Linked DNA regions of Homo sapiens: all the other regions are linked to region 1. Evidence: fine-mapped expression QTL. A gene starts in region 1. Each other region holds a variant in brackets. All regions are shown on one strand. Distances are between the middles of the regions.

Region 1 (5,134 bases):
AGTATTAGCCTCATTAATAAATAAAAGCCTCTGTGTCATATATTTATTTGCATACCCAGTGCATTCTCAGCCCTGTGTGACTTTATTATCCCCATTTTATAGATTAGGAAATCATGGCTCAGAGATATTAGTGATGGCTCTAGTTTACTCAACTAGAAACTCCTAGGCCCAGGATTTCAATTCAATGTTTCCAATTCCAAAACCCATATGTTCTTCTCTGTACCTGTTGCAGAAACGTGATATGAGATAAAAGAAAACATGAGATTCTCTGTGCCCTCTGCAAAATGCCCTCTTTTTATCCCTACTATTGCCTGAAATGGGTGAACACTCTCAATGACTCTTTTCTGAAAATATACATTTCCAGCGTCCTTAAACAATACTGGTTCACCAAAGGGCATTGATTTTAAAATGGGACAATGAGCTCCATTCCTTCACGGATAATTCAAATCTTTTCTTCTAATAGCCAGCCACTATCAGGGATTGAAGACAACCAGCACATATTATTGCTCAGTCTCTGAGTGAACCCTTTGAGACCTTGAATAATCTGACTTTCCACAGTATTCAAATTGATTGCCAAATCTCTGCTGTAAGCTACAAGATCAATATACACACCATAAGGTTAGCCAGAATTAAGAACTCATGACAAAATAATAAGAAAGTGGGTTTAAAAAAGTCTAAAACTGGAAACACATTTCAAACATGAACGTACCAGAGATATCCCATATTCCATTTAGCTTACATGATGTCTCAAATTAGGAAAAAATCTGAAAAGGTCAGTTAGATATATTTACTTGTCTGACAATACGTCAATACAATAATCAGTCAGTTTGTCTGTAATAGCGTCTAAAATCCACAGCTGGGGCCAATGTCTTGGTGTTTAGTAGACAGCTAATTGTTAAACTTTGTACACCTAAAATATTGTGGTGGGCAAAATCCATTTTAAAAACCTAAAGTTTTTAGTTTTACAGTCTACACTAATCACATGGAGAACTGCCAGATTTTCCTTCCCTCTTGAGCTGCGCATAGCACAGATTCGTCTTACTGAAGGATGTAGCCTTTGAGGTCACCAGCAGTCTACTTCCATCTTCTCATTGTCCACAAGTGAATCTAAGTCCATTACTGTATTTCACCCAAGCAAGTTGACTTCCTTTTCTGGGTGTGCATTATTTATCCCATTCATATGCAGAAAAGTAAATAAGAAACATAAAACCTTAACAAAAAGGCCTGCCATAACTTATTTGCATGCACAGTGTAGATTTTAATAAACTATCAAACTTCTCTGTGGTTACCTTCCACCAAGGAGGAAAAACAGTACCCACATTTACAAAGAAAAAAAGATGTACTATGTAGGAATTTTTGCAATCACGTGGTCCTCCTACAGATGTTTTTAATGATTCTTTTAGAAGCGTAGAAATGAAATATATCTCAGTAGTAATCTTTGTGAGAAAAACCTTCGCCTCTTAATTTCCATATTTACTTTTTGAAAATAAAAACAAACAAAAAAAACAACTCTTAAGATTCCCACATATTCTCAAGACCTGTCCTTATGCAACACCACCTAATTATTTTCACGCAGGAGTAACACATTTGCTAGATTTGGGCTTCACATACCACGCTTGAGTTCAGTGAGTGGTTTACCTGGAAATCTTGACTTCAGATGACCTGAAAACGGTGGCTTATAGAGGTGAGAGAAAAGAAGACCTGTAATTATGGCAACCCATTTTAAAGATAGTTTAGGGAAACTGAGGCAAAATTATTTTCTCAAGTGGTGCTTTAAAATTCCTTTTAACAGAACAAATCCCCCAAACCGGGGGGAAAAACCCTCATGACCTTTAGTTTACGATATCAGTCTATCCGTTTTCAGAAATGGGGAACGAGGTTTGCAGTGAATGGATTTCTCCTTTCAGAGCTCGCTTAGGAAGCCTGGCTTGCTTCTATTCTTTTCTCCTCCTCCCCCCTACTTCAAGCAAAAGCACTTGAGATTCAGGAATGTTTTTAAATTCAAATACAAAGAGAAGGAAAGGAAGCCAAACGACCTGAGACAGGGGTTGTGGCTTAGAACAGACCAAGGTTCATTCCTCGAGCCTCCTCTCTCTCAGTCTCCAAGTGTCCCCCCATTCCCGGGTCCCGGTGCAGATGATGCTGTGCTGCGGTCTGAAGACTGAGCAACAGGAGTCCGCCCCCCTCGCAGCTCCCTCCCCGACCCGCTATCTCCAGGTGGGTTGTCGAGCACTGGCGAAACCTGCGGCCCAACCCTTCCTAGGCAACGGGAAAAACGTGCTCAGGAGTTCATTCAGCGAAAGCGCAGAGCAAGGCTGGGGGCCTGTCACCGGGGAGGTGGCACTTGATAGGTTGGGTTTTGCTTTTTGCATCTTCATCCCTCTCTTCCAAGCTGTCTCCAGGAAGGGCTGCCTTCGTCCACATTTCCTCTTTCCCCCAGGGGTTCCGACCCTCGACCAGCAGAGTGACTAGGGCTCTGGCTCCCTCAGTTTCGAGTCTTTACTCGCTGCTGGGCGACAGTGCAGCCACCTGACCTGGCCCTCGCCCCCAGAGAGTGCGGCCCGGCCGCGGTCTGCAGCCCACCCTGGGTGTCCACATCCGAGGGGCGCGATGGGAGCAGGCTGCTTTCAGAACCCTGCTGGAAGACTGAAACTTGATCTGTGAGATGCAGGCTTCTAAGCCCAGCCTTCTGACAAGGACCCTGGCAACCCGCGGGAAAGGCGACTACCCTCGGGGGAGCGGGCGAGTGCGCTTCTACAAGCCCCTTCATTACATGCCCCGTGTGGGGAAGGTGGGACGGGGCGCGGCTGCCTCAACCCGAACCCCTGAGATGCAGTCCCCGGATGCTACCGCCCGTCGGCCAGCTCTAGCCCTACCTCAAAAAGCTGAGGGATTTCCCTCCGGGCCAGATACTCCTTGGCATCGTTGGTGTTCATGGCTGTGCCGCGCGTGCCTTGGGGCGCAAGCGGGGAGGCTCCCGGGCTGCGGCGACCTGAGCCGGGGCTGAAGCTGGGGCTGGCAGAGTCCGCGCCGAGCAGCGGTGCAGCCCTCTTTCTCACGCGCACTCAGCTCAGCCTCTCCGCCCAGGCCAGGGACCCCCTCCGCCTCTCCCCGGGGGCTGTGGTCTCCGCGCTCCCGCCGCCCCCGCTTCGGTTCCAGCCCCCGAGCCGGAGCTGCAGGCGCCGAGCAGCTGTGCCGCGGCTTCCCGGGCTGCCAGGCAGCGCGGCCGCCAGGGGTGGGGCGCAGGGAGCGGAGGAGGGAGGACAGCGTGGCGAACGCAAGGCAGCAGCCGGCCCGCCTCTCCGGTTCAGCGCGCCGCGCTCCGCGCCTCCCCGAGCCGGGTCTGCGGCGGCTGCCGGTCACGCTGCGCGGGCTGGCGCGAGGTGCGGAGGTGGGGGCGGGCACGCGCAAGGGGTCGTAGTCATACCCCTCGGTGCGGCACCGGCGCCAGAGCGCGACGCTTCACTGCGTGCGCCGCCCAGGGATGCAGCTACCGGGGACCAGGTGGCCAAGGGAACAGGGTCGGGGTCTGTAGGAACCTGCGACCGTTTCGCTTCTCCGGACCTTGTACGCACACAGACACACTCGCACGCACATACACGGTTACCTCCGGGTCTCCGAGGAACTCCCAGGAAAAACCTAATAGTCACAGGATTTATCATTTATTCCTAAGGTTACGGATCTTTCACTATAGGGAGCTGTGGGGAAGGGGGAAAAGGGGATTCATGGTGTGGAATCCAACCCTTCAGATAATTTTTAGATCTTGAGTATCTCTATCCTTCAGGAAAGTTTTGCTAGCTGGTTTCGAATTTTTACCCTGTCGGTGTCACAAATCTTTATAGACTTTAGGATAAGGCCTTAGTGTGAGCCTGAAATCCTAATCAACTGAAGGACTAATAAGTAGTCAACTAGTTAATTATCTCCATGGAGAAGAAGGGACAGTGGAGGAGAAAGGTGGGTGGTAGTGGAGAGCTAGAGATGCTTAAATTGCAAATGTGTTTAGTAGGTGGGGAGGGTGGGCATCATTAATTAGACCTGAAGAGTGTGCAGTCCGTGGACAGTGTCGTATCAGAGCACCCCTGGGGGAATATGAGTGAGTATGAGTGGGTGCGCTAAGGCATAATGGTTAATGGATCTTCCTGCTGCAGACCATTGTTAAGGTGTAACCCATCTTCCTCCTAGCTCCCAAGATGACTCAATTCCCTGCTAAGATGTCTTCACATTGCCTATTTGGGAGATAGTCCTTGCCCCCGGAGAATATGATCTCTAACTTCCCACAAAGCCTAACACTGTAGGAGGGTGTGTGAGAGAGGACACTTTGGTAGGCACTGGTATCTGGGGTCTGGCTGGAGAAAGAAGCAACGCTGCCACTGCTTTAAAAAACTATAGAGTCTGAATGTCCATTTCAAGTGCTTCTTTGCAGATCTTTTCTTGGTTCTATTTCTTGTTCCGGAAACAACTGCAGCTCAAGCCTTAACTACAGCTGCAGCTTTGTTTTACCTGAGGGAGTAAATGAACTTTTAGCACTTGTGAACCCGTGTGTCATATGGTTGCCTTAAACGAGGCAGGTATTTCAGTTCCATGGAAATTGGTTTTTGCCCTTAGAATATGCCATTTCACTTACAGTCCCAACTTCTAGTATTTCTTTAGCTTATTTAAGATTGGCTATGGCAGTAGTGAAGGCAGTGTCTCTTCCCTATGCAATGATGCTTGAAAAGTACAATGGTCCGTGGCATTAAGGCTTCCTTTGTGAGCAGGCACAGTGGAGGTGAACACGCAGGAATGAAAAGGCCAGTTTCTCCAGGACTTTTCAAGGTCATCCTTTGCAGACAAGAATCTGGCAGAGCATGGCTCACCTGTCTTCCCTTGAAGAAATGCATAATTCTAAGTGTACTTTAGTGTTACCGGACAAGTGTTGGCAACTTGCTTGTAAAAAGAGAATGGATAAGAAAGACTGCACTGCACTAAAAATTGTAGATAGCCTGAAAAATGTAGTAAATGGTGATACGGCAAGTTTTCAAGTAGCCTTATGCAGAGACAATTAGTGTATTTTGGTGTGTGCCAGGGTGGAGAGAGATGCGTGAAAGAGGAAGATGTTCATAATTACTTTTGCAAAGGAAGTTGTGGCTTTGTA
Region 2 (5,134 bases), 280 kb before region 1:
ACTACTGTGTGTCTCAGGGCACCAGTTACAATTACCTTGACCCAAACTACTTTCCAGCAAACAGATGACATGGAAGAGAACATCATTTACTAGTCCTCTTCAACACATAGCAATGGTATCATTGTTAATTATGTGCACAGTTTGGAAAGATTCTCTGCTTTCCCAGAAATGACACTCACAGCATGAGAGCTTCCTGAGTGTTCTCGTCAAGTACAGCTCTGCACCGTTGTGGCTCTAGATCACTGTTCAGCAGCTGAACATTCCTGGTGAGCAAAGGTTTCCCTGGTGAATTTTTCACCACTGCGTTTTAGGTGGTGATCTTAAATGGGTGAGATGGAACGAGAGCACACATTAAAGAGAGAGTAAATTCCAAAGGTTTCAAAGAACTTGGTCATAAATATGATAATGAGAAGACAAAGTATTTATATTAAAACAGTTTAGTAGCCTTCAGTTTTGTGAAAATAGTTTTCAGCACAGAAACTGACTTCTTTAGACAAAGTTTTAACCAATGATGGTGTTTGCTTCTAGGATATACACTTTAAAAGAACTCACTGTCCCAGTGGTGGTCATTGATGGCCTTTAGTAAATTGGAGCTGCTTAATCATATTGATATCTAATTTCTTTTAACCACAATGAATTGTCCTTAATTACCAACAGTGAAGCACTACAGGAGGCAACTGTGGCATTGCTTCCTTAACCAGCTCATGGTGTGTGAATGTTATAAAATTGTCACTCAGATATATTTTTTAAATGTAATGTTATATAAGATGATCATGTGATGTGTACAAACTATGGTGAAAAGTGCCAGTGGTAGTAACTGTGTAAAGTTTCTAATTCACAACATTAATTCCTTTAAAATACACAGCCTTCTGCCTCTGTATTTGGAGTTGTCAGTACAACTCATCAAAGAAAACTGCCTAATATAAAAATCATATATATGGTAATAATTTCCCTCTTTTGTAGTCTGCACAAGATCCATAAAAGATTGTATTTTTATTACTATTTAAACAAGTGATTAAATTTAGTCTGCACAGTGAGCAAGGGTTCACATGCATTCTTTTATACTGCTGGATTTTGTTGTGCATCATTTAAAACATTTTGTATGTTTCTTCTTATCTGTGTATACAGTATGTTCTTGAATGATGTTCATTTGTCAGGAGAACTGTGAGAAATAAACTATGTGGATACTGTCTGTTTATATTATAGAATGCTTGTTGTGACTTCCTTTTGGTTAGATTTTGGATTTTTTTTTTTACCAGTGTTAAAACCAGAAATTGGTATTTTTTAAAATGGTTTGCTTCACATATTTAAGAGTTTTCTTTCTGTCATTTATGAAGAATAAGGAATGTATTATGGAAAAGAGGGTGATCTTAAGCAACCCTGTAAAAAATGGTAAAGATTTTTACTCAGTGTGTGCTGAAACACTAAATTAAACTAGCTTACAAAAAGGAAACACGGACCATGGTTAAAGAAAAAGGCAATTATTAATGCTCAGGTGTGAAAACTAAAGTTGAAAATTTTTTTTCTAGTTGTGTCTCATGAAGATAAGCCCCCATGTATTTAAACAGATGGCTTTTGAAAAATCACCTTGTTTCCTGGAAATTACTATTAACTATAGGAAAAGATAGTATAAATATTCTAAGATTGATTGTTATATTTGACCCAATTTTTAGAATCACCTGTTTTTTCCTATTTTAAATCAAGGGAACATTATTTACTAGTTCTCTTCAGTACATAGCAGGGTACTAAAATCATACCCTGAATTTTTTTTAATTGAGAAAAGTAATAGAATTTTAAATATAGAAATATGAGAATTTTAAAGTAATATATTGATTAAAGATCACTGATGATATAGATATAATATATCATAACAGAAGGAAAGTAAATGGACTTGAGCTTAACTTCTCACCCTGGAATTATTAGTGGGTGAAGAGGGGAATCATTAGCATTCTGGGCGTTTTTATATTAAATGTTTTGTGAATATGCCAGAAGATCTGCCTTCAACTTGTAATTAGGCAAGATAGTAATGCTTGATGGTAACTTCTATGTTTGTGTAGAAATAATACCAGTTAGTTTTGGAAAGCCATTCAGATCCATTCAAAAATTCCATAAAGTATGATGTATGCTTTGGAAGAGGGATATGAGTGATACAATTGTTATATAAATGGAATAGACAAACCATTTGAATGCATTTTTCTAGGGCAAACATTTTTTGAGATTTTTGAGTTAAGAAGATTTTTCGGCTTGAGCAGAAGATGTGTTTGTTTTGCATTTTTCAGCTCCAAGGAAA[C/T]AGCCCCCATGGCTTTAAAAGGCCCTGAAGTTCAGATAGTAGTAGGTAGTGTTTTGTTATTGTTTTAATTTGAGAGTTGCAGGAATAATGGGCAGAGCTGTCATTTGCCGGTAGGCTACCATCTGCCTACATAGAATTATTGGACTGTAAGCTAAAACAGACTGTAAAAGACCTACTTGCTAAAGCATTGCTTATTCAGTGGTATTCAGTAGATAAGATCTATTTCCTGATATATTGTGCTCAAGTTATTTGCACATCTTAAGAAACTTTTAATATCTAAAACCATTGTTGTAAGATTTAGGTAGAGGAGGTTTCCTTTTGTGTGATGCATAATAATAGAAAACACTGATACAGTGTTTACTATGTGCCAAGCAAGCATATGATAACTAATTCTTAACAACTCTATGAGGCAGGGTCATTTATTATCCTGTTGTCATATGAGGAAATCTCGCCAGAGAGAAGTTAATTAACCTGCCCAAGGTCGTATAGTTAGTAAAGTGGTCATGCTTGGATTTTAACCTAGGCAGATTACTTCAGAGTCAGCGTCTGCCTTACTATCCTGTTTCCTGAGCAGGAATTTCCCCTTGTGTCAGGCAACACTAGGTGTTAGGAGTGGAGGTGTGCAGATGTTGCCTTACATTCTGTTTTCCTGATGTGGTGTGCTTCCTAAGAGTACAAACCTGAGCATATGTCCAGGCTTGCAAAGTCTCAGGCAAAGCTGGGACTAAGGCTTGTGTTTCCTGCCTTGGGTAGGATTTTCTTCTATGCATGTTGGGTGCTTCTCACTTAACCTAATAGTATGCCTTGTCTGTTTTCCCCCCTTCCCCTTTTTGTTTAAATTGATTCACAGAACACAAAAATTTACTAGGTATGAACATTTGAAAAAATGGAATAGAGAAAATGGTACATCACATGTAATAAAGATAAATATTGTTTTGTGAAATGTCTTTTTCAATCATAAATATGTGTTGTGTGCTATATAAAACTATTTCTTATTGTGGATATTGAAGTTTGAAGCCTGTTGTTCATCTATAGATGCACTGGATGGGATTGGAAGTCTTCAGATTTCAGTAGGGTTTTCCACAAGCTTATGAAGACATTGTTCTGTTTAGGCTGTAAACTGTTTTTATTTCTTGATGAAAAATGTTCTTCTATTTATATGATCCCAGAAAAAAGATACAACTTTTTTTTTCTACAGTTAATGTAGCTAGTTAACTAGAGTTTTCAGAGTTATAATACATTTAGCTCCATGAGAACAGAGACGATCCATGTCTGTCTGTATCTCTAGGGCCTGGCATTTAATAGATTCTCAATAAATATGTGTTGGTTGTATGACCAACATTTTGGTGAGTTTACATTTTTTTCCTCCAGGAACTTGAGAGACACCACCTATGATTGAGTGTGTCTGTGAGATCCTTAGAGGCCTTGCATCAGAAGGTCATCTTGACAGTTCTGTGAGAGGACAGGGGAATTGGACTCTATCTTACCCAAAGGCTGTGATTCAACCCTGGGTGGCAGAGGTGGTTTTGGTTCTCTGTGGGACCCTAGATAGGCTGTGTATCTTGATTCTCTTCCATGTTTTTAAGAGTAGTGTAATGGGGCTGGGCATGGTGGCTCACGTCTGTAATCCCAACACTTTGGGAAGCCGAGGCAGGTAGATTGCTTGAGCCCAGGAGTTTGAGACCAGCCTGGGCAACATGGCAAAACCCTGTCTTTACTTAAAATACAAACAAATGGGCATGGTGGCACGTGGCTGTAGTCTCAGCTACTCGGGAGGCTGAGTTTGGGGGAATCACCTGAACTTGGGACGTTGAGGCTGCAGTAAGCCGAGATGGTGCCATGGCATAATAGCCTGGGGGAGAACGCTGTCTCAAAAAAAAAAAAAAAAAAAAGCAAGGTAATGGAAAGGACACTGGAGTGAAAATTCTGGGTCTTAGTCCCAGTTGTGGAAGTGAAGCACTCAGTAAGTGTTGACAAAGAACTACCTTTCATTGCACATTAGGAGCTAGTAAATGATTCGTGTGTCTTACTAACTTTTGTTTAATCCTCAGTTCCTCTATGAGGTTCATTACTATTATGTTCTCCATTGTATACATGAGAAAACTGGAGGTGCAGAGAGTATGTTAAATATGTTAGCTCTCAATAATAATTACTGTGTGTGGGACTGGAGATACCAAGCCGTGTCCTTATGGAGGTTATAATCTAATGCAGAAGACCAGCAATAAGTAAGTAAATAAAAACTATTACTTCAATTCAGGCAGGGATAAATGCTTTGAAGATAAGTAATGCTCAGAGAAAAATAATAATGGGAGAATGGGGAATAGTCTGCCATTTTAGATGGAATAAGCAAAGAAATCCTCTATTGGCCAGGGTAAATTCAAATAGAAACCAGAATAGAGCAAGGGAATTTGCTGCATGAATAATCTGTAGGAAGGGGCAGAAGGATAGCAGTAGCACACGGGCCCTGAGCCAGTAGACCGTGGCTTGTTCTGGCAACATTAAGATGGCCAGAGTAGCTTAAGCCAAATGAGCAAGAGGAGAGTAGTAGTTGATGGCGTCGAAGAGGGCACAAGCCAGCTCAGATGTGGCCTTGAAAACACATCATTGTAAAGGAGTTTAGATTGTGTTCTGATGTCTTCTACATACACACAGGTCTTTCGCTAGACAGAGACCTCTAAGGTCTTTTCCAGTATTAAAATCTTATGACTTTAAAGTAGTGATATCATTTCAAGCCATTCAAATCAGTAATGTGTTCTAGAGAAGAGTTGATTTGCACTTCTAGATACTCTTCAGGGGCAAAGCCATTTACCCTTGCTAAATTTTTCAAGGTGGCTGTCAGCTACA
Region 3 (5,134 bases), 150 kb before region 1:
TATATACATATACATGTATACATACATATATATGTATATACATACATATTCTTTTTTATGGCCAAATTTTATATAAATACTGTCATTTGCAGCAATATGGATGGAACTGGAGGACATTATGTTAAGTGAAATAAGCCAGGCACAAAAAGATAAATATCACAGTTCTGACTCATATGCAAGGGCTAAAAAAGTAAATATCATGGAGGCAGAGAGTTAAATGTTGGTTACCAGAGGCTAGGAAGAGTGATGAGGGAGAGGAGGTGAAGAGAGGTTGGTTAATGGGTATAAAAATGCAGTTAGATAAAAAGAATAATTTCTAGTTTTTGATAGCAAAGTAGGGTGACTATAGTTAATAATTCATTGTGTATTTCAAAATGGCTAGATTTGTAATGTTCCCAATGTAAAGAAATGATAAATGTTTGAGGTGATAGATATCCTAATTACCTGATCATTACACATTGTATGCGTGCACCAAAATATCACCTGTTCCCCATATGTACAATATGTATCAATAAAAATTATGTAATCTTCCTCATTTTTCCTTTAGAAAATGTTCGCTTCCTTTGCCTCCCTAAATATGCACATAGATTACTACAGCAAATGTATTCCCATGGCAATGTACATTCCCAAATAAATATTATTTTCTTTCAGAGAGTCTCTCTCTCTCTTATTTAGGATTATATAAATGGTGTCAGAAGTGAGATCTAAGTCAGCTCACCTTAGATAGATTATCAGCCCCTGAAATGGAGAGCAGTATCACCTGAGCCCTTTGTGCTCTTCGTTTCTACGAGTCGCCTTTTTGGTCCTGGAGAATTTCTTCTCAGATTTTCTGACTCTCTCCCTTTGGTGAGTTTTTTGGACATTATTTGGGATCTGATTTGATTGTAAGGCCACCTTAATAATGGACCTTGCATTCCCCCTGGAATGATAAAAACTTTTGTCTTTTCTGGCAAGCCCTTTCTGGTTTAAGGACAATGTTCTTCTGGTTCGAGTACTCTGGTTTTTATAGAACGTGTACTTTGTTTGTGATGCATGTCTCTTCTGGTGAATTCACTTTTGGTCTGCATGCCTAGTTTGATATTTTGGTTGATTAGCATGCCTGGCTTAACATTTTTGTGAGCACTCTAATTTTGGTTTCATTTTGGTCTGGTTATGCACATCTATAAATAATTTGAATCTTGTACTTTTTTTCTCTTCTTGCTTGCTTTTGAACATCTTCCCAGAGCAAAAATAAACATACAAAGTGGTAGGTGTGAGATGGCCAATTAAAAGCCACTATCTAAAATACCAAACTCCTGACATTCCCTGATAGAATGCATAGATTTCTTTTCTCTCAAGAGATTAATAAGAAACAAAACGAGATTCTCAAACATTAAGGCATGCCAGTTTTTCTGGGACTCCAGCCAGCTACATGGTTTTTCCTCATGCATGTTTTTAAACCAATGGCCATCTTAGGCGTTATTTGAACTCCCCAAGCTTGTTTTTTTTTTTTTTTTTTTTTTTTTTTTTTGTACCAAATATAGGGTTAAAACAAAATGCTGGTATGTAGAGGCTCTCAACTTCTTTTTTTCTCCTTTTTTTCCCCATCTCTGCTTCTCTGAATCTGCTTTTTCACTTGTATTAAAATAACCTAATTTTGCTAGTTTCCAAAGCTACTTACAAGTTTTTTAAAGAGCATTTCAGCCAAAATAACAAAAAAAGAGAGGGCTTTCAAATTACAGTAGTTCCATGACAGCCAACAAGCTATCCAGTACACCTAAGAGTCATCCCTTTTGGAAATGTTAATTTAGTTTTGATTGACTAGCAATTGCTTAGGGTGATTTAACAATTGCTTTAGTTAATTAAAAGCTAGATAGTCTAAGAAGGAAAGAACTAGATTAAGGTTTACAAAAGTTAGGCTCTCAGATCAAACAGGTCGAAATCTTGAGCTCAGGGGAATAATAGAAGGTATCTTTGACATAAAAATTTTGCTTTGTCTGCTGTATGTGAGCCAGGAAAAGCTGAGGGGAAAAAAAAACCCTTTAAATACCTTTTTCTAAAATGCTTTCCTGCCTGCATCGACTAATCAAGTAAATCAGACAAACAAATAAAAAGATAAATTTATTGCCGGAATTCAAGGCCACCGGGGTATTTTGTTTTTCTACACAATTTAGTTGGTGCTATCTAAAATGAAAATGTTTGAATATTTAACCTCTGTACCAGTTTAAAACTTGAAGGAGAAAAAGAGGTTTCTAAAAATCAAACTGCTGTGGAAACTGCTTTACCCAAAGCTTTGGTCCACAGCCTTCATAAGATCACCTATCAGGGCAAATAAAATTTAGCCATGTGAACAGGTCCCATTTTGTCAGAAATATAATTTGGATTCAACTGTCCTTTTATAAACTGGTAAGTTTAAATTACTATGTTTTGCTGTCTCATGATTAACATTTCAAAATGAAAGCTAAAGAATCTGCTTCGATGTATTCATGTTGTCTGTATGTTTTTATGTTGCATGTATGTATTTTTCTACCAAAATATATCAAAGAGCTAATTAATTAATTAATTAAAG[G/A]GAAAAATTAAGCACTTCAATCAAGTATGTTATCAAAAACATAATAGCCACCTCAAAGTTTTTAAGTTCACCTGACTTGGGTAAATGTTTGATAAGTAAACTGATTTTAAAATTGTTGATAAAATAAAAACAGAAATGTCTTAAGAATTGTCAGCAAAGATTTGTGCCTGAGTTTACTGGTCAGGCAGTTTTACATTTATCTTTGTTAGATATATTTTAAGGAGTCAGTGTTTGACATGAATGTCATAGAACTATGAATCCATCCTAAAAAGAGAACGATCTTTGTTTATGTAATTCCTTGATAAGTAATACTAATTTAATATTGTTGATTTAATGAAAGCAGCTGTATTTTCTGAGTTATTGGCAAGATACTGAAGTATTTAACTTTATGGTTCTTAGTTGGGTGAGGAATGCTTAATAGTCACAGCCTGTAAAAACGGCTAACAAGGAATTAGCCTGAAATAATTACTAGCCTTGTCTAATATCTTAGTTTTCATAAGTAATATAGTTATAATTGTTAAAAATAAACAAATTAGGTGAATGTAAATGGTATAATCATTTATAAATTAATTCTTCTTAGTTTCAAAAAATCTTTTTGATAACTTAAAATTTTAAAGTTATGTTAAATTAAGTAACAGATACTCATTAAGTATCTGGGTCATTTCAAAATAAGATAAAATATTGAAACAAATTGCTGAACACAAATATAAGTTTGTTCTTGGCTTCTTAAATTTTATAGAAAAACAAATATATTTGGGTTCATTAATACACATTAAAATTATGAGGAAACATGTTTCCAAAATTATAAAATCATTCTTATATATAAAATACTGATATGGAACAGTTCAAAATTTCTTGCTTCCTACACTTTCATTAGAAATTAATGTTACTAAGAGTTTGAATTTTAATTAACATATATAATTCTGTATACAAAGCATACCAATAAATGTAAAATGTGTTTTGGGAGGAGAAGTTATAAGAAAGGGATAAAAATATGTTCTTTGTTGAGAAAAAGAAAAATTTGTCTAATTTAGAGGTTATTTAAAGATTGTTTCAAAATACGAATTTAGAAAGGAAATAGAAACAAGACAGAAAGGAACCAGTAAGTAGGAAACAGAGATGTGAAGAAAGTTTTAAGTGTGAAGATGTATTTTTGGCATGGAATGTTAGAAGTGAATAATTTTTCAAAATAACAAGGGAACAAGGAAAGTAAATTTTTATCCTAAGGTGACTTGTTATTTTAAAAAGCGAATGTATAGGACAAAACTAACGGCTTAAGCATGCCATCAAAGGTCTGTGCAGATCGTGAAAGGTTTTTGAGGGATGAATTTTATAAAAGGAGTTTTGTGTGTGTAATCAAGTTTGCTATAAATAAAAGGGAATTATGTATATCTTTCTAAGGATTAAGGATTATATACATAACTTAGTTTATAAGTTAAAACTTAATTTACAACTAAGATATAAAACTAAGATTTTGGTTTCTTATATTAGAACAACAGAGTTTTCTTGAAGTACTAATCTGCTCTTAGTAAAATTTGTGAAAGTCTTTGATTTTTAATTCTGTAAAATTTCAGCCATCTTCTAAACTGCAGCTTCTTTTTTTTTTTTTTTTGAGACAGAGTCTTGCTCTGTCACCAGGCTGGAGTGCTGGCGCCATCTTGGCTCACTGCAACTTCTGCCTTCCGGGTTCAAACGATTCTCCTGCCTCAGCCTCCTGAGTAGCTGGGACTGCAGGTGTACGCCACCATGCCAAGCTAATTTTTATATTTTTAATGGAGATGGGGTTTCACCATGTAGGCCACGATGGTCTCGGTCTCTTCACCCTGTGATCCCCTGGCTTCAGCCTCCCAAAGTGCTGGGATTACAGGCGTGAGCCACCATGCCCAGCCTCTGTTTTACAGTCTATTTACTTTCCCTAGTTTCAAATTAAAAGTGCTATGTTCTTCATTTAGGATGGTAATTTCATTTCTTGAGGTAAAGTTTTCCTCTTGAAGCTTTTCAGATTCATATCTCAGAAGTACAATTTTTGCTGTATCTTGCAGCACAGGATTTGAGGTCATACAACACTGCCTTCTGCTCTTCCTGTCCCTCCTTGAGAGGATACATCTTTTTGCTTGGCTAGGTTGATAACTCGCTCCTTCAACTTTTTCGTCAGCTCCTGAAACTTTTTTCTCTACTTCAAGCTCTGCTGTTATGACCTGATGCTCAAATGTTTGTCTTGAAGCCCTAGAAAAGCAATGTTCCCCTCCAGTATATCTTGATTCTGCAATCTTGGTTTTTCTTGATATGTTTGAATTGTTCCATCTAACCAGGCAATTTCATGTTTTCACTTTTTTAAAGAGCCATGTATTCCTCTGCTCAAGGTACTAGTTTTCTTGTTTACTTCTTCTATGATATGATGTAAACTCATACCACTGGACCCACTCTTCTTGTGTCTGATTAAATTCAAGTAGTTTTTCATCAGGTTAGACTTCCAGGTTATTTAAACGGGCTTCCAGTAAGAAGCAATTATATTGCAGGAAGCTTTTTCTTTCTTTCCCCCTTTTGGTAATTGGCCTAAGATGAAGATTTTTGTAAGTTCCTGTG
Region 4 (5,000 bases), 40 kb before region 1:
TTTCCCGTAAAAGTGTGTAGGGAGAGGAAGAAAATAAGGAGTTACATCCAAGGTTGTGTCCTGGCAGGCAAAAATGGGTCTGTGAGAAACCCTGATGATATAATCAAATTACCTTTCTATCAGTCATTAGTGAGATTTTATTCTACTACTACCAGAAATATAATAGTTGCATTTTGTATTTAAAAAGTGGTGGTCAGGTGCATTGGCTTATGCCTGTAATCCCAACACTTTGGGAGGCCGAGGTGGGCGGATCACCAGGTCAGGAGCTTGAGACCAGCCTGACCAACGTGGTGAAACCCCGTCAAAAAATACAAAATACAAAAAAAAAAAAAAACAAAAAACCTACAAAAATTAGCCAGGCATGGTGGCATGTGCCTGTAATCCCAGCTACTCAGGAGGTTGAGGCAGGAGAATTGCTTGAACCCAGGAAGCAGAGGTTGCAGTGTAGTGAGCCGAGATTGCACCACTGCACTCCAGCCTGGATGACAGAACAAGCCTCCGTCTCAAAAAAAAAAGTAGCTCGTAATCTGACATCCAGCTCTAAATTGCTCTGATGTAATAGAGAATGATGAATTCAAGCTTCAAGTTAGAGGCTGATGGCCTGGTAGCCACCATCACATCCAGAAGAGGAAGCTAAGCCGAGAGACTACCCAATGAAACGATCTGCAGAATACATGAAATCAAGTCTCCTTCAGACAATCAGGAACAGTCTCTGTTCAACAATTTCCCCATCTCGCCTCATGCCCCTTTAACTACAACCCTACTTCCAGGAGGAGGGTAGAGGTTTTTTTTTTTTCCCTATAAAGATCTAATAAATGTCTTGGTAGATTCAGAGTTTCTAGAACATCTGAGATGAGAATTCAAATGGTTTAACTCTGCGGTCTACATCCTGGGGGGTGTGGCCCCATTCAGGTGGGTTTATATCTGGGATGAGCAGAGAATCATCATTACTAATTATCACTGCACTTTAGATACAGCTTCAGAATCCTTCTCAGCATACTGGGTTAGGCAGTCGTTGCAATTTGAATGTGGTACACAAGATGAAATCTTTTTGCCACCATTGGTTTATACACATAAATGAGGTGGCTCTATAGGCATACACGAAAATTAGTTTTAGTCTTATTCTATAGCCATGAGTAAGACACACACACACACACACACACACACACACACACACGCAAATGGTGAACTTTTTTTTAATATGTTCCACACTTAATTAATTGAATTTTTAAAGCAGTGGTGGACAGAAGAGACATTTTCATTAAAATCAGAGAAGTTATTTCCTAACATTGTTCATGCCATTTCTTAATGTTCGGCATTTTCAGCAGGCTAATCTTCACCCTACTTTCTCATTAGTAAATGGGTAGATTGCCAAGGCTCTACAAGGCAATAGCTATTATAAGAACGGGTCTTTTCAAATTGTGCTGGTGCCTTGAGTTGAACCCAGACTTTTGAGTCTCTGTTGGCTGCAGCAGCAGCAGCAGCTGCTTTCACCCTGGTCTTCTGCTCCAGCAGGGAGCCAGAGCACTGAAATGTAATCATTCTCACAGGATATTTTTAGATTATTGATTTGGTGCTTTATTGTTTCCTTATTTTTGGAAATGTATGAGTGATTTGGACAGAAACTAATCTGAACTGGAAACCCTTTCCAAATATTTCTCTCCTCTATTTCTTTCTCTGTGTGTGTGTTATATCTATCTACACACACGTGTATGTATGCACACACATACACATACATAAACACACACTGACTAAAGAATGATATTTATTAGAATATTTGGTAGTTCAAGTGGAATATATTTGAGTTAATTTCCAAAAGGCTTATTATTAAATTATAATAGAAAGCAAAGAAGTTCAGATATGGAAAGGCCTGCTAGGGATTTTAAACCATTATTCATTCTAATTATTCATTTGCTCGTTCATTTCGATCATTCATTCAGTAAATATTGAGTGTTTATATGTACAAAAATAATATTAAAGAATTCCTAAAACTTTTCAGACAAGAAGAATCAATGATTGGCTCTAATAATTTGCTCTAATGTTTATGGTACTTTTAAGGAGATGTTTCTCCTATATAAATTCAAAATTGTTTTCTTAAATGCAAATTTATTTACTCAGCAGAAAAGAAGCAGACAACATGCTATTTAAAAACTCTTTTACATGCATGGGAAACAGTTATAAGGAGATGACTATAAAGAAAAACAGGCTGGGTGCGTTGGTTCACACCTATAATCCCAGCACTTTGGGAGGCCAAGGTAGGCAGATCCCCTGAGGTCAGGCATTTGAGACCAGTCCGGCCAACATGGCGAAACTCTGTCTCTACTAAAAATACAAAAAAAATTAGCCGGGCGTGGTGGTGCATGCCTGTAGTCGCAGCTACTTGAGGAGGCTGAGGCAGGAGAACTGCTTGAACCTGGGAGGTGGAGGTGGCAATGAGCCGAGATTGTGCCACTGGACTCCAGCCTGGGTGACAGAGCGAAATTCTGTCTCAAAAGAAAAAAAAAAAGAAAAGAAAAACAAAGATTTTGAAATAAACAGCGCAGAACTTGTGAAACTAAATGCATTCTCTGTGAAACTAAATGCATTCTCTCTTACAAAATAGGGCATTTGGAAAATTAAAAATTCACTTTAATATGTTGTCCACTGCTCAGAGCATTTTGGGATCTAACTTCAGACAGGATCTTCTGAATCTAAACAGCAGTCCTTTGAGACTAGATCGACCTTTTTTATTGCTTAGGGAGATAGTATAGTTGGGTGGAGAGAGCACTGGAGAAAAGACAGTAAGGTGCGTAATTTAGCTCTCACGTTAACTAGATGTGTGAATTCCAGCCAGTCATTTAATCTCTCTGGGACTCAATTTTCTCATTTACAAAATGAGATCAGTAGCTACCAATCTTTTTTAGTTCAAAGACCGTTTTTAAAGTTTTTTTGTCTTTGTTTTTGCTTTTTTTAAAATCCCAAGAATCTCCACATGGTAAAGCTGTACTTTTGGCATCAGTTGATTGAGAAAATGCTTCTGTTTGCCTAGGTTTGCTTTCCTCTGCAATGACT[C/G]AGCAACCCCCAGAGGGAGGAACCACCAGTCACCTGAAGCCAGATAAAGTAGCCGGTAAAATTTGTGCTTGAGTTACTCTTCTATGAATCAATGTACTCATGGAGACCATTAGTTAAAGAATGAAGAGAAAGAATTTCTTTAGGCCATGACTCACAGAAAAAAAAAGAAGAAAAAAAGAACCAAGGACTACAAACAGATTAAATCCTATAATCAAGGGCTACTCACCACATTAGTAAATTAGTCACTATTCATTCTTCTGATGCAAACACAAGCATATCACCCTCTATCCCATCCACGTATTTGGACAAATACCCATGACTATGTATTCAAACAATGCTATTTTAAAAATAAAGATATTATTCTTCTCAGTCAATATTTTAGGAAATAATCATCATGGAAAGTTAAATAATAAGCTAGACACGGCTCACCCTGTTTTCATAGTACATAAAAATTTGCTGCTAATATATAGAAATACAATTGATTAGTAAATTGACCTTGTATTCCATGACCTTGCTAAATTTAACTAATAGTTTTGGTACACATTTTGTAGATTCCTTAGGATTTTCTTTGTAAACAATCATGTATTTCAACAATATAGACAATATTAGTCCTTCCTTTCCTGTATTATGCCTTTTGTTTCTTTTTCTTGTCTCAGAGCACTATTTAGAACTTCTCAGACCACTATTTAGAATTTTTACTACTTCTATTTAACAACGTTAAATAGAAATGGTAAAAGCCGACACCCTCACAATTCCCAATATTAGGGGGCAGCACTCAACATTTTACCATTAAGTATGACGTTAGCTATATAGGTTTTTGTAGATGCTCCCTATTAGAGGAGAATTCCCTTCCAATCCCAATTTGCTGGTTTTTTAATGAACTTATGTTCAATGTTGTCAAATGCTTTTTCTGCTACTATGATCAAAAAGAACATCAAGCTTTTAAAATGTACTGAGACTTTTTTTTTTTTTGAGACGGAGTCTCGCTCTATCTATTGCCCATGCTGCAGTGCAGTGGCGAGACCTCAGCTCACTGCAACCTACGCCTCTCGGGTTCAAGTGATTCTCTTGCCTTAGCTTCCTGAGTAGCTGGGACTACAGGCGGCACCACCGCACCTGGCTGTTTTGTATTTTTAGTAGAGATGGGGTTTCACCGTGTTGGCCAGACTGCTGTCAAACTCCTGACCTCAGGTGATCCGCCCACCTCAGCCTCCCAAAATGCTGGGATTATAGGAGTGAGCCACCACGCCCGGCCGAGACTTGTATTAATGGCTTAGTAAATGGTTTATCTTGGTGAATGTACCATACACACTCAAAATCACTGTGCATTATTCAGTTGTTTGATACAGTGTTCTAGACATGTCTATTGTTCTTTAGATTTTCTATGTCTGTACTGGTATTTTGCCTAGTTGTTAATATTAAATACTGAGAGAAGATTGTTAACATTTCCAATTATGAGTTTGCATTTGTCTATTTCTTCCTTTATTTCTATCAATTTTTGAGTCATGGATATTGAAACTTTTTATTAGGTATATACACATTTATAAATTGTATGTCTTTCTGATGAATTGATGCATTCACCACTATGGAGTATTCCTCTGTCTCTGGTGATACTCTGTCTGAAGTCTACTTTAATGTCAGTAACATCACTCCAGCTTTCTTATGTGTAGTGTTTTCATGGTATACCTTTTTTTTAGACAGAGTCTTGCTTGTCAACACCCAGGCTGGAGTGCAATGGCGTGATCTCAGCTCACTGCAATCTCTGCTTCTCGGATTCAAGCAATTCTCCTGTCTCAGCTTCCTGAGTAGCTGGTATTACAGGCATGCACCACCATACCTGGCTAATTTTTGTATTTTTAGTAGAGATGGGGTTTCACCATATTGACCAGGCTGGTCCCAAACTCCTGACCTCAGGTGACCCACCTGCCTCAGCCTCCCAAAGTGGTGAG
Region 5 (5,134 bases), 70 kb before region 1:
AGGGCTATCATTTCACAGAATATGAAGTGGAGCAGTACAACTGTGGAATTACCTATCCATGGGATTTTAGAAAATGCACTACTTGATATTTTTAATATCAGATTTCATTGTTTTAAGAATTCAGATTGAACCGATGAAATGAGCCAGCAATCACAAGTACGCTGCAGTCATGCAGCAACTGCTCACTGAGCCAAAAGGATTTCACCTAAGGCTTTACAAAATCTTCTGAGACAGACAGAATTTAGTTGGAAATTACTGCTGCATTAATCATTCAGTTGTATGAGACCATATCATCTTTTTGGGCTTCTGCTAGAATTCATTTGTCATGAACATATGAACTCTAAATAAAGCTTTGGTAAAAAAACGAAAAAATAAACATTATCAAGTATATATCAAGTGATCGTGATGTCTGTATTCAGATTTTTAAGCATAAATTTCAGAATAGAGGAAAAATCATATCTTATAATACACAGCACTATTTATCTTTTGAAATTAAACTTTCAGGTAAGATACAAGATTTTTTCTTTACAAAAAAATCTATTACTTCTATTTTTCCTCCTTGATCCTGAACTTGACAGCAATTGTGGAAATTCTTTGAAGCAACACTCTGTGGTATTTTCTGAGAAATCTCTCATGGTTGCTGACACCTTCAAATAACCTGTGAATTGGCAATGGTTAGAGACTAGGCCACAGTGGAAAGCATGAATTTTTGAAAGCTCAAATTTGAAGCATTACTGAAAAGCTGTTTATTCAATCCTAGTGAATGAAGTCTAAAGAGGTTCTTGTTCACTCTCAGCTTATTAGGATGAACGGATGTAGTACAATTCATTAATGTATGCATTAAGTTAACAAATAATTCAAAGCACCCACTACAGTCTGGCACTGCGCTGGCTGCACAGTCCCTACTAAGTGGACTACTGAAAAGAATAGCCTGCATCACATTACAACTTACACACATTCAAGCTTCCCTTCCACAGACATCCCTTTAAATTCAGAGTTGGCTTTCTTACTTCATATAGGAGCTCTTAAAGCCAAAAATCAACATTTTCATACATCTTTCAGTACCCCCCCATTAGCTAGAAATCTCAGAATAATTGCCTAAAAAGAAATTGATGAATGAATATATTTGTAGATTATTTTATACTAAGCTAAATTAAATTCCTCAGTGGGGTTGTTGAGCAGGGAGAGAGCAACAAGAAATTAGAATGGTTTAGATAAAATTTATTTTATTCCCTACTCCTTCCCTGGCTGCTTATCTCTTGATTCTGTCTTTCCCACCACTTACTCCCATTTCCAATCCTGAACTTGGTAATGGCTGTAACTCCACTTAGAAATTTCAGATGTCTCATTTCTTCTTGAATGCATGGAATAATCTCTGTTCCAGAGTGTCAAGTTCATCCAGTCCCACCAGAGTTATCATGGAAAGGCAGGTGCAATTTACTCCCTCCTGCAGCCTTTTGTACATCCTTCCTCCTATCATTACAATGGTCAGATGCAATGAGGCCACTCACTGATCTCCTTTCCTCCCTTTTCTCTATGGGCTCCCTCAGAGCAGTGGCGTGTCTGTGTACCTGCCTGTGTCCCACCTGCCAGGTTGGGTTAAACTAGCTGGAAGCATCCTGCAGTTGTGCCTGGGGAAGGGCCCTCCAGAGGCCAGCTGAGTGGGAGGCAAAAACACAGACAAGGGAAGCCCATTATATTGAGGAAGACAACAGCAGTTGAGTCTGAAGGGTGAAACAGGGCAGACTGGGATCAAGGAGTAATGTCAGAGTGAGACGCAGAGTGGGTAAGGCAAGAGTAAGACTGCGCAGTTTAGAGTTTATCTGAGAAAAGGTAGCAAGTCCCTATCTTTACCTGAAATGAGATAATCTAAATAGAAACACCTGGCACACACAAGGCACTAAATAATTTTTTTTCTTTTTTTGAGATGGAGTCTTGCTCTACCGCCCTGGCTGGAGTACAGTGGCACGATTTTGGCTCACTGCAACATCCGCCTCCTGGGTTCAAGCGATTCTCCTGCCTCAGCCTCCTGAGTAGCTGGGATTACAGGCATGGAACACCATGCCTGCCT[A/T]ATTTTTGTATTTTTAGTAGAGACAGGATTTTACCATGTTGGCTAGGCTGGTCTTGAACTCCTGACCTCAGGCAATCCGCCCACCTTGGCCTCCCAAAGTGCTGAGATTACAGGCTTGAGCCACCATGCCTGGCTGGCACTAAATAATTTTAATACCTACATGACAGAGGTGAGTGATTAAAATAGTTAAAAATGTGTAAATCAGTTGGCGCTGCACTGGATACAGTATGTTAGTTCTTCACATCTCTTAGAAACAAATTTCTTATTTTTTTTAAAAAAATAATTAAGTATGTAAAGGTAAATTAAAATGGAGACCAGACTTGAAGAATCTCTGAGAAGATAAAGCCAATTAGGTCTCATAAGTGACCTTAACTTTGCTCAATTTGCAAACATAAACCAAACTTGTGCTACTTCTTGTAAATGCCTGTATTAAAGAAAAAATGAAACTTAAGACTAACCTATCAGAAGCTGCCAAATAACTTATTTAACTAAGGACTTTCCAGCAAGATAGATCAAATAAGGCAACTGTATAACAGTAACCAATCAAATGTTTTCTTTTCTTCACTTCCTTCTGTGTTTGCCCTAGAAAAGCCTTCCCCTGGTGTTCCCTGGTTGGATCTCCTGAACCACTTCCAGCTTGGAGTTGTTCAATTTATCAGTCGCTGTTTGTGCAAATAAACTCTTTCAAATTTTATTGTGCCTCAGTTCACCTTTTAACAGGTATCATTGCTTCTCAAACAGCAAAAACCTGCAGGTTCACATTAACAGGCATTATCAATATATTTTCTGGCTGTTTTGAGAGGGGTGTTTAACTCTACTTGGACATAAGTTCTGGTTGAATTCCCTGTCATTAACTGAGGGATCCTCTAACATAGAATCTATTTCAAACCTCAGCTCCCTTGTTTACTGGCTTCAGGCTTTATGGCATGTTCCTGACCTTCTCTGGGCCTCTGTTTCTTTCATTAATTTTAAAACACTGTTGGAAGAATTAGATATAAGATGAATAAGGAGTCTGGTATATTGAAAGTGCTTACTGAAAAGTAGCTAATATTATTAAGCACATTTTCTATTTTAACCATTTTTCATAGAACTACTTGCAAATGGGCCGGGCATGGTGGCTCACACCTTTAATTCCAGCACTTTGGGAGGCCAAGGTGGGCGGATCACAAGGTCAGGAGTTCGAGACCACCCTGGCCAACATGGTGAAACCCAGTCTCTACTAAAAATACAAAAATTAGCCGGGCATGGTGGCAGGCACCTGTAATGCCAGCTACTTGGGAGGCTGAGGCAGGAGAATTGCTTGAAACCGGAAGGCAGAGGTTGCAGTGAGCCGAGATTGCACCACTGCACTCCAGCCTGGGCAACAAGAGCGAAACTCCATCTCAAGAAAAAAAAAAAAAAAAGAATTACTTGCAGATGTATTTTACGTATCTTTTCAAACAGAAAAAAGGATTATTTTTAACCTTTTGGTGGTTATTGTAGGTTGGCTCACTCATTTATTCCAGCTCCTTTCTCCTTTGTCTTCTTCTACATCAGAGGTTGTAAAGCTAAAAACTCCGTTTTGCAGCCTCCCCTGAAGGTAGGGGAAACACATGCTCCACTTCTGACCAATGAGATACAGGTGCCAGTCAATGAGGGAGGGAGAGGGGGTTTATGGGAAAGCTTTTGCTTTCCTAAAGAAAGGCAATAGCTGTGGCTTCCCAGCCCTTTACTATCTCACCTTTTTTCTGTGTGGAAGGTAGACTGGATGATTTTGTCACTATGAGAAAGCATTAAAGATGTTGGAACAGAAAGACAGAAGGGGCCTGGGTCCTTGATGACACCATGTAGTCATTGTACTACTCCTAGATCGTCCATCTCTGAACATATTTTTACACACATCAAATAAACCTGTTAATTTAAGCCATAGCTATTCATATATTTATTTATTTATTTAGAGACAGGGTCTTGCTCTGTTGCCCAGGCTGGAGTGCAGTGCTGCAATCATGGCTCATTGCAACCTCCATCTCCTGGGCTCAAGTGATCCTCCCACCTCAGCTTCCCAAGTAGCCGGGACTGCAGGTGTGCACCACCATGCCCAACTAATTTTTTGTATTTTTGGTAGAGATGGGGTTTCGCCATGTTGCCCAGGCTGGTCTTCAATTCCTGGCCTCAAGCAATCCACCCATTTCAGCCTCCCAAAGTGTTGGGATTACAGACATGAGCCACCGCGCCCGGCCCAGTTATTCTTTTATTGTAATGAAACAAACCTTTTATTTTTGGTGAAGACCAATTATTGCACAGTGCTTTAATGGAATTATGTCCTCACTGCTGCAAGATGTGCAGGGCTGTCTGCCATGAAAATAAATGGTTCCATGTATAACGATTGAATTAATTCATTAACTTACTTAATGAACTATTTTGAAACAGTTATTAGTGGAAAGAAAAATTTGTGATTCAACTGACTCTACTCTCCCTTTGCTTGGATTTTAATGTCACTTGATAATGCTTTAGCTTGTCAGAGTCCTGATTACATTCCCTTTCCTTCCCTATCTCCTTTCCTTTCAGCCTTGCCATGAACACTATCCAAAGGGTAAACCAAAATGGTTAAACTGGGAAAATGTATGTTACGCCTATGATGCAGGTGATTTTTGAGTGCTATTTTCCCTTAGAGAACTTTTCCAATTACTCCCATGTTTGCCATCCGTGCCAGATGGTTGCCGATCTGCCATATGGAGAAGTAAAACCTTGTGTCAGTCACTATTCCAGTCCAGGCCCTTGTCACGCCTCTTCCAGATGCTTCCTCCATTCACTGTTTCACACACAGCTACCAGCTTAATATTTCTAGCTGTGTCACTCCCATGCTCCAAGCCTTTCAATGTGGCCCTTGCCAACAGAAAAACCCTTCCTCCTTAGCCTAGCACTTCAGTGCCTTGCTCAGTTTGATGACAGCACCTCTGTCCCCTGGTTTCTACTTCTCACTACTCTGTTCTACACGTGTCTGCTTATCATGACCTTCTTTCCTATTTCTGGGTTCCAACTCCTTCCTGCCTCTCAAGGGTCAATGTTTCCAGGAAAGCCTTC

Which allele goes with the higher level. Positions count from the first base shown, and alleles are read on the strand shown. Sizes are in standard deviations (SD) of each study's normalised expression. Not every link is listed here.
For the expression in cerebral cortex of the gene that starts at base 3,231 in region 1, allele T in region 2 goes with a lower level than allele C (small effect, 0.26 SD a copy in GTEx).

What was found. PIP is the estimated chance that this variant, and not a neighbour inherited with it, causes the effect.
Region 2: its variant is the best candidate, but not a certain one, in a credible set for the expression of AK5 in cerebral cortex (GTEx, PIP 0.61).
Region 3: its variant is the best candidate, but not a certain one, in a credible set for the expression of AK5 in whole blood (TOPMed, PIP 0.70).
Region 4: its variant is the best candidate, but not a certain one, in a credible set for the expression of AK5 in fibroblasts (GTEx, PIP 0.52).
Region 5: its variant is the best candidate, but not a certain one, in a credible set for the expression of AK5 in fibroblasts (GTEx, PIP 0.67).

What each region holds. Positions count from the first base shown.
Region 1 is chr1:77,280,116-77,285,249 of GRCh38, reverse strand. AK5 (adenylate kinase 5) reads right to left here and starts at 3,231. Exons shown (of 14, transcript NM_174858.3): 1 at 2,877-3,231. The coding sequence starts at 2,936. RefSeq lists a silencer at 3,312-3,371.
Region 2 is chr1:77,560,574-77,565,707 of GRCh38, reverse strand. ZZZ3 (zinc finger ZZ-type containing 3) reads left to right here. Exons shown (of 15, transcript NM_015534.6): 15 at 1-3,292. The coding sequence ends at 68. Among named protein-coding and RNA genes, the nearest start is that of ZZZ3, 120 kb to the left of the region's middle. The variant C/T (reference allele first, on the strand shown) is at 2,291.
Region 3 is chr1:77,434,671-77,439,804 of GRCh38, reverse strand. All of the region lies in intron 8 of AK5 (adenylate kinase 5), which reads right to left. LOC124904202 (a long non-coding RNA gene) reads left to right here and starts at 2,201. Exons shown (of 2, transcript XR_007066178.1): 1 at 2,201-2,385. The variant G/A (reference allele first, on the strand shown) is at 2,549.
Region 4 is chr1:77,320,496-77,325,495 of GRCh38, reverse strand. All of the region lies in intron 5 of AK5 (adenylate kinase 5), which reads right to left. Among named protein-coding and RNA genes, the nearest start is that of AK5, 41 kb to the right of the region's middle. RefSeq lists an enhancer at 2,958-3,252. The variant C/G (reference allele first, on the strand shown) is at 3,052.
Region 5 is chr1:77,350,268-77,355,401 of GRCh38, reverse strand. The region is part of intron 6 of AK5 (adenylate kinase 5); the gene reads right to left. Among named protein-coding and RNA genes, the nearest start is that of AK5, 71 kb to the right of the region's middle. The variant A/T (reference allele first, on the strand shown) is at 2,072.